Linked DNA regions of Homo sapiens. The protein of the gene in region 2 purifies or fractionates together with the protein of the main gene of each other region. This does not show direct contact. Each region holds a gene or a part of one and is shown on either strand. Other genes may lie near its edges.

Region 1 (5,819 bases), on a different chromosome or scaffold from region 2:
GCATTACCGCCCGAGCTCCTCCTCCTGTCAGATCAGCGGTGGCATTAGATTGTCCTGAGTGTGACCTGAACCCTGTTGTAAGTTGCTCATGCAGGGGGATATAGGTTGTTCACTCCTTATGAGAATCGAATGCCTTTCTGATCTGTCACCATCTTCCGTCACCCCCAAATGGGACCATCTAGTTGCAGGAAAACAAGCTCAGGGCTCCCACTGATTCTACATTTTGGTGAGATATAATTATTTCATTATATATTAATAATAATAGAAATAAAGTGCACAATGAATGTAATATACTTGAATCATCCTGGAACCATCCCCCACCTCAGGTTCCTGTAAACATTATCTTCCACAAAACCAGTCCCTGGTGCCAGCATGGTTGGGGACACCTGGTTAACAGATGTGAGACCCCTTTGCCTTGTCTTGGAATAATGTGCAGATATGCATTGTGTGAATGACATCTGATGGCGCCATCTTGCCCTGTACATCATTTTAGGGACAGCTCCAGTATTTCATGAAAATTAAAATTTCTTCTAGTGACGAACAAAATGATACTCAGAAGCAATTTTGTGAAGAACAGAACACTGGAATATTACACGATGAGATTCTGATTCATGAAGAAAAGCAGATAGAAGTGGTTGAAAAAATGAATTCTGAGGTATTTTCTTTAGTTATTTTCAAATGTTTTTATATGTGTGTATATTTTAAAGAACTGTATTTTGGAAATATAAAGGATTTTTAAGTCATATATATGTGTGTATATATTCTATATATCCTTTGTCATATATCTATATACGTACGTATAGGATAAAGCCATGTTCTTAATTCACCTTCATTTGCCTGCAACAGTTGAGTAGTGACCTGCACAATGGCCTCAATCCAAAGGAGAAGTATTTGATGTTTTTCATAAGAATTGATGATCTTTCCACATCAGAAATAAGTTTTGCTACTGAAAACAGATTTTCTCGTTTTTGGACATTAGTTTTTTAAAAAATGTTAATAGAGAAGTCAATTGATTATTTTTACTGATAAGAAAGTAGGAAATGTATAGCTGGGTCAGAGGCCACATTGTGGATACCATTATCCTTACTTTTGCAGAGAGGAACAGTTTGCTCCAAGTAGTTTCTCATTTCAGTGTAAAGAGGTTTGAAAACAATGACATGCCATGATACACATTTAGTAATAATTTATTGATAAGTATTTTGTTTCTGGAGAAATAGTTCAGTATATTTCCCCTATTTCACCATTACTACTGTTTCAAACATTATAAAGAGGAAATAAAAGTTACCGCAATGGCAAATAATCTCATGATTTCTAAGAAGATCTCTATAAGTTGTATCTTATTTACCATTCATATTTTGAAACAAAAGGTTTCTTTTGTATTTATATATTTACACCACAGAAGTAAGTGTGGTTTTGTGGAGGATCACTAGAAGTAGCATCAGCAGACCTGGGGAAAATCCTGCATCTGTGTATATTTTTTGACCTCTCCTTTTAAGAATCGCGATCTTAAATGAGTTCAGTATTATATGTAGAAGAGCAATGCCTAGATACAGATGTGTACAGTGTAGAAGGGTACAGTGCTTAGATTTGACAGTTATAAATAAATGTAATTCTTATAACTGAGTATAGAAATATTAGAAATGTAGAATATCGGTAAAACGTTCTTCAGTAAAAGAAACTTAAAGAACTTTGAGAAATTGCTTCTGTCCAAATATATGCATAGCTAAGGCTCTTAGGATGGTGTGGTTGATAGGTTAGATATCAGAGTGTAAACCTAATCTTAAAAATGTAGTCAAATTATTAATCTTATATTTTATGCCTCTGGGTTTTTTGTAACTCAGAAAAAGGCTTTTTTAATTCTGGGATTCTTAAAAATCCTCTAGTGATTTATTTTTCATCGTCTTTAAATAAATATTTAAACTTTTAGGAATTTAGGAGCAGATTCCTAAAAGTTTAAATATTTATTTAAAGACGATGAAAAATAAATCACTGGAGGAATTTACACTCTTATTAGGTTTGAAGTTTTGTCCAATTTTTTTCCAGTTAAATATCCACTATGGGGATTCTTTCATTATACAAATACATGTTATTTTTGAATTTCAGAAGAAATCATGATATGTCAATCTATTGAGTGCTAACTAAAAGTTCTCTTTGTTTACTTAGCTTTCTCTTAGTTGTAAGAAAGAAAAAGACGTCTTGCATGAAAATAGTACGTTGCGGGAAGAAATTGCCATGCTAAGACTGGAGCTAGACACAATGAAACATCAGAGCCAGCTAAGAGAAAAGAAATATTTGGAGGATATTGAAAGTGTGAAAAAAAAGAATGATAATCTTTTAAAGGCTCTACAATTGAATGAGCTCACCATGGATGATGATACCGCCGTGCTCGTCATTGACAACGGCTCTGGCATGTGCAAGGCCGGCTTTGCGGGCGACGATGCCCCCCGGGCTGTCTTCCCTTCCATCGTGGGGCGCCCCAGGCAGCAGGGCATGATGGGGGGCATGCATCAGAAAGAGTCCTATGTGGGCAAGGAGGCCCAGAGCAAGAGAGGCATCCTGACCCTGAAGTACCCCATGGAACACGGCATCATCACCAACTGGGATGACATGGAGAAGATCTGGCACCACACCTTCTACAACGAGCTGCGTGTGGCTCCCGAGGAGCACCCCATCCTGCTGACCGAGGCCCCCCTGAACCCCAAGGCCAACCGCGAGAAGATGACCCAGATCATGTTTGAGACCTTCAACACCCCAGCCATGTACGTGGCCATCCAGGCCGTGCCGTCCCTGTACACCTCTGGCCGTACTACTGGCATCGTGATGGACTCTGGTGACGGGGTCACCCACACTGTGCCCATCTATGAGGGGAATGCCCTCCCCCATGCCACCCTGCGCCTAGACCTGGCTGGGCGGGAACTGCCTGACTACCTCATGAAGATCCTCACCGAGCGTGGCTATAGGTTCACCACCATGGCCGAGCGGGAAATCGTGCGTGACATCAAAGAGAAGCTGTGCTATGTTGCCCTGGACTTCGAGCAGGAGATGGCCACGGCGGCCTCCAGCTCCTCCCTAGAGAAGAGCTACGAGCTGCCCGATGGCCAGGTCATCACCATCGGCAACGAGCGGTTCCGCTGCCCCGAGGCGCTCTTCCAGCCTTGCTTCCTGGGCATGGAATCCTGTGGCATCCATGAAACTACCTTCAACTCCATCATGAAGTCTGATGTGGACATCCGCAAAGACCTGTACACCAACACAGTGCTGTCTGGCGGCACCACCATGTACCCTGGCATGGCCCACAGAATGCAGAAGGAGATCGCTGCCCTGGCGCCTAGCATGATGAAGATCAGGATCATTGCTCCTCCCAAGCGCAAGTACTCCGTGTGGGTCGGTGGCTCCATCCTGGCCTCGCTGTCCACCTTCCAGCAGATGTGGATCAGCAAGCAGGAGTATGATGAGTCAGGCCCCTCCATTGTCCACCGCAAATGCTTCTAGGTGGACTCTGACTTAGTTGCGTTACACCCTTTCTTGACAAAACCAAACTTCTCAGAAAACAACATGAGATTGGCATGGCTTTATTTGTTTTCTTGTTTCATTTTTTGTTTTGTTTTTTATTGGCTTGACTCAGGATTTAAAAACCGGAATGGTGAAGGTGACAGCAGTCGGTTGGAGGAAGCTTCCTCCAAAGTTCTACAATGTTGCCAAGGACTTTGATTGTACATTGTTCTTCTTTTCAATAGTCATTCCAAATATTGTGAGACGCATTGTTTCAGGAAGCCCCTTGCCCTGCTAAAAGCCATCCCACTTCTCTCTAAGGAGAATGGCCCAGTCCTCTCCCTAGTTCACACAGGGGAGGTGATAGCATTGCTTTTGTGCAAATTACATAATGCAAAATTTTTTGAATCTTCGCCTTAATACTTTTTAATTTTGTTTTATTTTGAATGATCAGCCTTCGTGGCCCCCCTCTTTTGTACCCCAACTTGGGGTGTATGAAGGCTTTTGGTCTCCCTGAGAGTGGCTGGAGGCAGCCAGGGCTTACCTGTACTCTGACTTGAGGAGAGTTGGATAAAAGTGCACACCTTAAAAAAAATTGAGGAAGCACAGTATTTCAGTACAGTGGACAGCTTAGCATGTTGACAACTGAGAATAAAATGCTCAGTTCTGAACTGGACAATGTAAGACACAACGAGGAAACACTGGAAATGGAAATTCAATTACGTCATTGTAGACTGGCTGCTGCTCTACATGATTGTGACCAAAGTCAGATAGCTGAAAGAGACTTCTTTCCAGAGAACAAGACATGAACAGGTTTATTTACAGAAGACAATGAATTCTCATTTATCTCACCTAAAAGAGAACAGATTCTTTCTCAACAAGTCTAATGTAGACAGTAAAATCAACAGGCTAAAAATTAAGCTCCACGAAACAAGATAAAACTCTGAGAGAAAAGACGGGGCAGGCCGCCATCTTTCCCGTTCAGGCAACTTAGTCATTCCAGCCTGCGGGCTTTGGAGAGTACAAACCGACGAGGGACAGAAGAGATCCCACAGCACAGCATAGCTGCTTTACCAAATCATGGCCAGACTGCTTCTGTAAGCAGGCCCCTGATCCTGTTCCACCTCACTGGACAGGACCTCCCAACTGGGGCCTCCAGCTACCCCCACCAGCATTCCTTGGCCAATGGAAATGTGAAATGTTCCTGGGACAGAGCTCCCGGAGAGGGGCAGGCCCCCACCTTTGCTCTTTTGGTGACTAGCCATTCTGGCCTGCGGGCTTTGGAGAGCCCAAGCTGACAAGGGGTGGAAGAGGTACCTCAGCACAGCACAGCCACGCTACAAAAACGTGGCCAGACTCTTGTTTACGTCAGTCCCTGACCACATTTCTAGTCAGCGGGTGAAGTCTTTCAACCAGGGTCTCTGGCTACCTTGACTGCTGTTCTCTGGCCGACAGAGGTCTCAGGCCTCCCTGAGTCAGAGCTCCCAGGGGGAGGACCAGATTGTCATCTTTGCTGTTTGGGTGACCCAGCCATTTCAGCCTTAGGGCTTCAGAGTGTCTGAGGTGGACCAGGGGCTGAAGTGAACCCCCAGCACAGCACAGCTGCTCTATAAAAACGTGGCCAGACTTTTTTTTTTGAAGCAAGTCCCTGTTCTTGTTCGTCCTGACTAGGTAAGACTTCTCAACTTGCCTCCAGCCACATCTTATAGGTGTGTTCAGATTGGCAACAGGTTCGTACCTCAGTGGTACAGAGCTTCCAGAGGAAGGGGCAGACTATCATCTTCCCTGGAAAATACAAGGCAATTAGGGACTGGAGGGGACCCCCAGCATACCACAGCAGCCCTACAGAAAAGTGGCCGGGCTCTCTACTTGATGGGCAGATCCTCCTGGCCTGGGTCTCTAGCCAGCCCACCACTGGAGCTATCAAGCCAGTAGCAACTCTGCAGTTCCTGGGACAGAGCTTCCAGGAGCAAATGAAATCCTTTCTGCCACTGCCTCTGCAGTGGAACTGCCCTTGCTACCCTCAGAAGATGCAAGGGAGCAAAGACCCTAAGTGCCCTATCAACACCTCCAATAAGCTGCAGTTGACCCAAAGAACAAGCCAGTCCATCTCCCACGGGTACCACACACCCTCCACTACTCATCACCAGACAGGGAACCCTGGCTTGGGCTCACAGCACAGACCCTCCATCCTGGGCTGATTACACTAAGTGATTGCTAACTCACATGTCTCTGGGATGGAGCACCCAGGAAACAAGCAAAGTGGTGGAGCAGCAAGTCAGGTGATGTGGAGCCCAGAGGTCAGGGATGGCTATCTCTCTAGGGTC
Region 2 (9,466 bases):
GAAGAAAATGTGGCATATATGGACAATGGAATACTATTTAGCCAGAAAAAAAGAATAAAATCAGCCAGGTGCAGTAGCTCGTGCCTGTAATCCCAGCACTTTGGGAGACCGAGGTGGGCGGATAACAAGGTCAAGAGATTGAGACTATCCTGGCCAACATGGTGAAACCCTGTCTCTACTAAAAATACAAAAATTAGCTGGGCGTGGTGGCACACACCTGTAGTCCCAGCTACTCGGGAGGCTGAGCCAGGAGAATCGCTTGAACCGATGAGGCAGAGGTTGCAGTGAGCAGGCAACCTACAGAATGGGAGAAAATTTTTACAATCTACCCATCTGACAAAGGGCTAATATCCAGAATCTACAAAGAACTTAAACAAATTTACAAGAAAAAATCAAATAACCCCATCAAAAAGTGGGCAAAGGATATGAACACACACTTCTCAAAAGAAGACATTTATGCAGCCAACAGACACATGAAAAAATGCTCATCATCACTGGCCATCAGAGAAATGCAAATCAAAACCACAATGAGATACTATCTTGCACCAGTTAGAATGGCGATCATTAAAAAGTCAGGAAACAACAGGTGCTGGAGAGGCTGTGGAGAAATAGGAACGTTTTTACACTGTTGGTGGGACTGTAAACTAGTTCAACCATTGTGGGAGACAGTGTGGTGATTCCTCAAGGATCTAGAACTAGAAATACCATTTGACCCAGCCATCCCATTACTGGGCATATACCTAAAGGATTATAAATCATGCTGCTCTAAAGACACATGCACACGTATGTTTATTGTGGCACTATTCACAATAGCAAAGACTTGGAACCAACCCAAATGTCCATCAATGATAGACTGGATTAAGAAAATGTGGCACATATACACTATGGAATACTTTGCAGCCATAAAAAAGGATGAGTTCATGTCCTTTGTAGGGACATGGATGAGGCTGGAAACCATCATTCTGAGCAAACTATCACAAGGACAGAAAACCAAACACTGCATGTTCTCACTCACAGGTGGGAATTGAACAATGAGATCACCTAGACACAGGGTGGGGAACATCACACACTGGGACCTGTTATGGAGTGGGGGGAAGGGGGAAGGATAACATTAGGAGAAATACTTAATGTAAATGACAAGTTAATGGGTGCAGCACACCAACATGGCACATGTATACATATGTAACAAACCTGCAAGTTGTGCACATGTACCCTAGAACTTAAAGTATAATAAAAAAAATCAAGTCAAATCAAATCCTGTCATTCTCAGCAACACATATGTAACTGGGGAACATTATGTTATGTGAAATAAGCCAAGAAAAGAAGGTTAAACAACGCATGTTCTCACATGCAGAAGCTTTAAAAACTTGATCTTATAGAAGTAAAAAGGAGAGAAGAGGATACTAAAGGGTAGGACGAGTTTGGGGAAGGAGGGGATAGGAAGATATTTGTTAAAGGATAGAAAATTACAGCTAGATAGCAGGAATAAATTCTCATGTTCTATACCACTATAGGATGACTATAACAATAATATAGTTTCAGATAGCTAGAAGGAAGGTATTGAATATTCCCAACACAAAGAGATGATAAATATTTGAGATGAAGTATATGTTAATTACCCTGATCTGAACACTATACATTATACATATACACTATGCCTATGTATACACATGCACTATATATATACACTATATGTCAAAATATCACTATGTACCCCATAAATATGTACAGTTATTATATATCAATTTTTACAAACCTCACCAGGGTCCTACAAATTTAGGTACTGTTATTGTTCTCATTTTACATTTGAGGAATCTGAGGCACAGATAAATTTATAAACTGGCCCAGTGTTGCATACCTAATAAGAGGTAGTGCACTGATTCAAATCCAGGCAGTCTATCTCTGCAGCCCACACTGTTAGCCACTAGTATGTCAGAAATTCAAAACTTCAAAGTCAATGTCTAACCAACCCAGGAGCAGTGAACACCACCAGATGCCTGATCAAGGTCTTGAAATACCATCTCCCATTAAAAAGAGCCAGGTTCCTTGGAGAAATGGCTGATTTAAGGTCTGGGTCAGGAAATGAACAAGAGAAACCTGAAGCACCTTGTCATATAGATAACAAGCTATTGAAGACTAATAGGATCATTCCAAAAGAAGAGGACTCTCAAGAGCCAACTTAAAGAGGCTCCCAATGGCCAAAGATGTGACAGTTTGAATATCAGTAGGGATAACAATAGCAATAGATTGAAGCACATCAAACATGTTTAAATCTATGAGTTCATAATGATGCTCAAAAATTGGTCATGTTTAAGAGATAATTGGGATGTTAAGTTGAAAACTGGTAAATAAATTTTTTTCCTGACATTCCTATGTGAACTGTATACCTGAATAACTACATAGTACATGATATGAAGTTCCTCTTTATAGGAATAATCCAGCTGCTAAATGACAAAGGAATGATAGAATTAGAGTGTCCCTTTTTTACAACCTCTAAAGTTGTGGTATGATCATAGCTGACTGCAGCCTCAAACTCTTGGCCTCAAGCAATCCTCCCTCTTCTTCAGCCTCCCAAAGTGATGTGGTTACAGGCATGAGCCACTGTGCCCAACGTTTGTACTTAATTTTTTAAAAACTCTAAAAGAAATTGCAATTATGAGAAAATTGATAATTTGAACAATGACTCAATGTTTGATGATGTTAAGGAAATATTGTTAATATTTTAGATGTGATAATAATATGGTTTTTTAAGTCTTTATTTTTATTGGTGAAATTATATGCTCTGGGATTTGCTTCAAAATACTATGCAATGGGGTTGGGGGTAGAGATGAAACAGAATTGGCCCTGAGTTGATAATTATTGGAGTTGGGGGATGGATACATGGAAGTTCACCACTATTCTTTCTACTATTGCATAGTTTAAAATTACCATAATGAAATGTTTTGTAAAATTAAATGCCTAATTTTTGGGTTGCACAAAATACATACTGTTTCTAATAAAAATACATAAGTAATTTGGTCCAAAATACTTTAGATATTAAGATGTAATGAATTTATTCTACTACCCATGTCTTTAATATATGTCCTTTCTGTTGAGAGAGAGGAGAGGAGAGGGGAGGGGAGGGGACGGGAGGGGAGGCAGAGAGAGAGAGATGTGTTTATTGCATAGAAAATGCTAGTAAAGTCAGTGGGTACTAATATCACTTGATCTTAGCCAAAAGGCTGAGAAGCGATAATGGCTACTAATATCAAGCCAGTTCTTAATGGTGCCAGGCAATAGTACTACATTTCCTTAATCTATTCACTTGCTCACATTCATAAATCATACTTTATCGAATCTCAGATGCCATTGATTATAAGTTGTATTATTATTTTATATACTAATAAAAAACAATGCTCCTGATTAAACTATGGAATGCCATCACTTGTAAGACAGCAATTTCACAGATGTTAAAATATGAAAAAATCATGTTTCAAAATCATCATAATACGGTATTCATCTTTTCTGTCAAGTCTAAAATACTTTCCCCCTATCTTCATTTCAGCTTCCTATTTCACTGGGAAAATAGAAGCACTCAGAACAGGGCATCCTCTTTCTCCTACCACCATATTTGTCCACCTGTTTGGATCTGTACTTATAAACTCTGCCTCCCCTTTTATTTCAATGGAGATGAATTATCCATACTCTTACTTAGAATGATCCCTGTGATTGTGTACTGGATTCCATCCCTTCTCTTCTCAAGGACATTCCTCCGAGTAACTAGCCTGTCTATCCTGAATTGTGTATTTCCCGCCTCTACTGGATCTTTTGTTTTATTTTATTAACTAATTCATTTATTTGAGACAGAGCCTCGCTCTGTCGCCCAGGCTGGAGTGCAGTGGTGTGATCTCGGCTCACTGCAACCTCTGCCTCCCGGGTTCAAGTGATTCTCCCGCCTCAGCCTCCCAGGTAGCTGGGTTTACAGGCGTCTGCCACCACGCCCGGCTAATTTTTGTATTTTTAGTAGAGACGGGGTTTCACCACGTTGGCCAGGCTGGTCTCCAACTCCTGACCTCAGGTGATCTGCCCACCTAAGCTTCCCAAAGTGCTGGGATTACAGGCGTGAGCCACTGCGCCCAGCCTAGATCCTTTTAATTAGTACATAAACTTACTATAATTTCTTCCATCTTTTTTATTTTATTTTTTTGAGACAGAGACTAGCTCTGTCGCCCATGCTGCAGTGCAGTGGCGGGATCACGGCTCACTGCAGTCTCTACTGTCTGGGCTCAAGCGATCCTCCCATCTCAGCCTCTCAAGTAGTTGGGACTTCAGGCGGGTGCCATGCCAGGCTAGTTTTTTATTTTTTGTAGAGATGAGGGTCTCACTATGTTGCCTAGGCAGTTTCAGACTCCTGGGCTCAACCAATCCTCCCACTTTGGCCTCCTGAAATGTTAGGATTACAGGCATAAGCCACCACACTCAGCCCCATCTTTGAATTAAAAAAAAAAAAAAAATTAGAACGTGGAAAAACGCAACAACAAAAGATTAACAAAATCCCTATCCCATGATAGCCTTATTTTTCTGCTCACCTTAAAAACAAAACTTCTTAAAAGTATTGCGTATATTTGCTTTCTCCATTTCCTCTCCTCCCATCCTTCCCTCCAACTCCTATCAAATTTTCATCAGACTTTATCAAACTTCCACCACTGCCAAAATGGCGTTTCAACATCACTGGTGACCATTGCTACAGTGGCCCATTCTTAATTCTCATTTTACTTGACCTATGAGCAACATTTGAGACAATGGGTCACTCCCTTCTTGAAACACTTCCTTCCCTTGGTTTTGCAGATCTAAACTCTCCTACTTTTCCATCTACTTCATGGATTATTCCTTCTCAGTCTTCTTTGTTGGATCCTCTTCACCTCTCCGACTTAACCTGGTGCATTGCTAGAAGAAACCCTGCTGAGTAAGAGCAAATTGTTTTTAGCATACCGCCGATTTTACTTTCCAGTATTTAAAAATGCTGTGTATCCTTTTAAATGAAAACGACTTAAAAAGCGTGGCTCTCAGGCTAGCAATAGAGATACCAACCCGGGAATCTCCGCACCACCCCCCAAGAGGAAGCAGCGTCTGACGTCTTCCGGAAACGAGCTCCACTGGCCTTATGGGAAATGTGGTCTCCGACGGATGGCCTACACCCGGGAGGAGTCCAGGAACTCTAGGTGGACAGTTACTTCCGCACACGCGTAGTAGGACGGTAGCCGGTATTCAATCTTCAAATCAGCGCCGCGGGAAGTGCGGGCGGGTGTTGCTCCCCTGTCTCTGGACGACGCTGTGACTGATCCCAGGCTTGGAGCCGGAGCTGCGAGCGAGGCAGTGAAAGGGTGGCAGGTATGGCTTTGCTGGACTCGGAGGACGTAAGAGAAAGGCGGGGACTGGCTTCTAGGTTTACCCTACCGAAGATAAAACTTTAGTCTCCAAGCGCAGTGACTTCAGGTTTGGATATGTGGGTCCTGTTCAACTCGAGTAGCTGAGAGAAAGCAAGAGTTGGGCTCCGACTGGCACTGGGTAGATGTCCAGGGCTCTGGTGGGACTGGGAGAGGCTCAATTTGCATTCCTGCTCTTGTAGGTCAAGGTCACTATGTAGGAGTCTGTTCATCTAACTGTACCTTTCCTGGTTCCAAGAGCATAGTTGGCCCGACTGGAGCCTGCGACAATTTTAAGCCGTGTCAAGGGATCCAGTGGAAACTGTAAGCTATTTCAAGGGATCCAGGAAGAAAGCATTCTTGAGAAACTGCTATGGATTAGAAGGGTATTCTCAGCAATCATTTGAAGTAAATGCTATTACCATTTTGCATATGAGTTAACTGAAGCTGAAAGGTGAAATTACTTGCCTGGACTCACACAGCTTAGTAAGTGGAAGAACTGAGATTCAAACTCAGATACATTTTCTCCAAATTTCTTTTTTTTTTTTTTTACAGTATAGCATTCCTGCATAAAACAGAGTTGGGTTTATTCTCCTGAAATGTTTGAGCAATGAATGCTGAGTAAATTTCGATTTGTAGTCATTTTGTAGAGTCTCTTGGTGTATCTGCAGATCTTCCAGTGCAGACTGTGTAAATGAAGATGTGAGTCCCCGGTTTGCCCATTATACCCTTTCTAGAGCCCCAGCAGTTCTAAGCTCATAGGAGATGGCGAGTTTCTACAGAGAGAAACATTTGGAGTTTAAACTGAAGGATCCAGCTTAACAAAAAAAAAATAAAAAAAAGTGTTCCTGGGTCCCTGAATCCAGCCTTCTCAAGAAAGCCCAACCTAATTTGCAATCTCTTATCCCAGCGTCAGAGTAGAAACCAGAGAATCACAGGAAGGAATCATTTTTAGACTTACGGAGCTTCAGAGACCAAGCTTTTAAGTGAGTCAACTCATTCATTATTTCTTCAGGATAAATTTCTGGGAGGAAAAAAAATAACTGTTTCAAGAGGAACCACTTGGTGCTAGATCAGTAGGACAGAAACATATAACATCCTTATCTAAGCTCCATATATTCCTAACAATCACAAGTAGAGATCTGTGCTTATGGAACATGGACTTTTCTGTCTTGCTAGAAATGTCATTCTCCCCCACTAGGTGGCATTTTCTGAGGCTGCAGTGTGGGTACTTATGGTCTGATAGAGCAGGGTTCTACTTTGCATGCAGTCCTGGTATCTCAGGTCTTTCTATTCTCTTCCCCATTTCTACTTTCATAGATTTCTGTGTAAGAGCTGCAGAAAATGATCAGCTTCCAGGTAAGGTATCCATCTATTCATCCAGTTGTTTAAATCTCCCAAAAATCCATATGATAAAAAGGAAATGTATGGTCAGGAAAAATGTAAACCAAATAAAAGATCAAGTCTAAAAGGAAATTTAGAAGATTGGTAAGTTGATATTCAAGTCATAGGGTTTGCAGATGGTTGGAACAAATTTGAGCTGCAAATGTGTACTCAGTCTTCCTGGAAATCATAGTAAATGGATAACCAGCCAGTTAAAAAGTATTGGCATTGCTGTGAAGATAAAGCAAAATTATTCTCCTTGTAAGTAAAGTTTTTCCTGACACAGTTCTTTGAAGAAAATCTTTTCTAATGAGTTTTCACATAGATAACATTAGAAATAACATTCACAGCAGCAGCCTGCGATAAATACAGCATCAGGTTTCCTATGACTTTCTTAGAGTATTCCCTAGAGTAAGAACATAGTGCCAAGCAGCACTAAATGAACTCAATTTATAAGTCCAGGTATGTGGCCTTTTTAATGCCCACCTGGATCCATAAGTAAATCTTGTACCTTTTCCAGTCTCTAGCTATCCTGAGCATTTACTCTTCTACATGAATTTTAAGGTCATCAAAATAACAAATATTGTCAAGGTTCATAAAGCAGTATGTTAGGTATTCTTTTTTTTTTTTTTTTTTTTGAGACAGTCTTGCTCTGTTGCCTAGGCTGGAGTACAATGGCGTGATCTCAGCTCACTGCAACCTCTACCTCCCAGGTTCAAGCGATTCTCCTGCCTCAACCTCCCAAGTAGCTTGGATTACAGGCATGTGCCACCACGCCCAGCTAATTTTTGTGTTTTTAGTAGAGACGGGGTTTCACCTTGTTGACCAGGCTGGTCTCGAATTCCTGACCTCAAGTGATCTGCCTGCCTCAGCCTTCCAAAGTGCTGGTAGGATTACAGTTGTGAACCACTGCGCCCGGCCAGATATTCTTATTAGGATTGCATTAAACTTAATAGGTTAATTTGGAGAGAATTCATGACTTTTCAATGAGTCCTATTTATTCAGGTTTTCTTATAGGTCTTTTATTATAATTTTTTTTTTTTTTTTTTTTTTGAGACAGAGTTTCACTCTGTTACCCAGGCTGGAGTGCAGTGGCACAATCTTGGCTTACTGCAACCTCCATCTCCTGAGTTCAAGTGATTCTCCTGCCTCAGCTTCCTGAGTAGGTGGGATTACAGGTGCCCGCCACCACGCCCGGCTAATTTTTGTATTTTTAGTAGAGACAGGGTTTCACCATGTTGGTCAGGCTGGTCTCGAACTCCTGACCTCAGGTGATCCACCCATCTCAGCCTCCCAAAGTGCTGGGATTATAGGCATGAGCCACCGCACCCGGCCCTTTTATTATAATTTTATAGGTTTTATAAGTTTCTTATTGTAATTCCTGTACATTTCTTATATTTATTCTTACATATGGTTTTAGTTGCTATTGAGAATGAGGTAGGCCTTTTTTTCATTATCTCTTCTAATTGGCTATTTTGGTAAATAGAAAAATATGGACTTCTCTTGGCTGGGCATGGTGGTTCATGCCTATATTCCCAGCACTTTGGGAGGCTAAGGTGGGAGGATTGCTTGAGGCCAGGAGTTCAAGACCAGCCTGGGCAATATAGCAAGACCCCATCTCTAGAAAAAAAAAATTAATTAGCATGGCATGATGGCACACACCTGTAGTTCCAGCTACTAGGTAGGCTAGGGCAGGAGGATCTGTTGAGCCTAGAAGATCAAGGCTATAGCTAGCTATGGTCACAGCACTGCACTCTAGCCTGGGTGACCCTGTCTCTGAAGAAAAGAAAAGATGGATTTCTCTATGTTGAATTTATATCCAGCCAATGTACAGAACTCTTGTTAGATCTAAGAGTTCTTTAGTTGATTCTTCTATTTCTTAGGTAGACAATCATACATTCCAAATGGAGTTTTATCTCTTCCTGCCCAATATTTATACCTTCCCCCATATTTTCCTTGTCTCATTGCAATGGCCAGGACTTCTAGTCACTGCAGTTTTGAATAAACAGCCATCCTGTGGTATCCATGGGAGACTGGTTGCAGAACTCCTGCAGATCCCCAAATCTGAACATAATGAAGTCCCACAGTACAGTTGGCCCTGTGGAACTTAAGGATAGGAAAAGTTGGCCATCCATATTCATGGGTTTTGCATGGCAAGAATACTGTATTTTTTTTTATCTGCATTTGGTTGTAGATGCAGAACCTGCCAACCAAGGGCCAACTATATTCATTGCAAAAAAATCTGAGTATAAGTGGAACCAGGCAGTTCAAACCTGTGTTGTTCAGGGATTAACTGTAATTGCTAGCCAGAAGTCTTTTTTGTCCTAATTTTAATGGGAGTGCTCCCAGTGTTTCACCGTTTCCTCTTGTATTCTAGTAGATAGTTGTTTTTTTTTTATTTTGTTTTTAATCAAGTTAAGGATTTTTAACTTGCAAAGATTATTTTAATAACTAGGGACTTTTGGCCTCATACCCTTTTTTAAAATAGCTGTCAGTAATATAATATATCTTGCCACCCTTAATATACCAGTTTAGAGAATTTTCAGTGCATTTCCCAGTACTGAACTATCTATACATTCCTGGAATAAACCCTTCCTAGTCCTAACTTTTTCATAAAGGGTGAGATAGTAAATATTTTAGATTTGAAGGTCATACAGCCTCTGTGGCAACTACTCAAC

What was found. The genes of interacting proteins can lie anywhere in the genome.
Region 1: the proteins of ZNF684 (region 2) and POTEE purify together in Homo sapiens (affinity purification with mass spectrometry; 2 studies listed by BioGRID and IntAct, with this or other methods). This does not show direct contact.

Annotation. Positions count from the first base shown.
Region 1 is NC_000002.12:131,261,192-131,267,010, forward strand, and holds the end of POTEE (POTE ankyrin domain family member E), read left to right. Parts: intron 1-534; coding exon 535-655; intron 656-2,163; coding exon 2,164-3,492; 3' UTR 3,493-4,087; downstream 4,088-5,819.
Region 2 is NC_000001.11:40,526,418-40,535,883, forward strand, and holds the start of ZNF684 (zinc finger protein 684), read left to right. Parts: upstream 1-5,219; 5' UTR 5,220-5,370; intron 5,371-6,725; 5' UTR 6,726-6,749; coding exon 6,750-6,764; intron 6,765-9,466. UniProt on the Homo sapiens protein: May be involved in transcriptional regulation.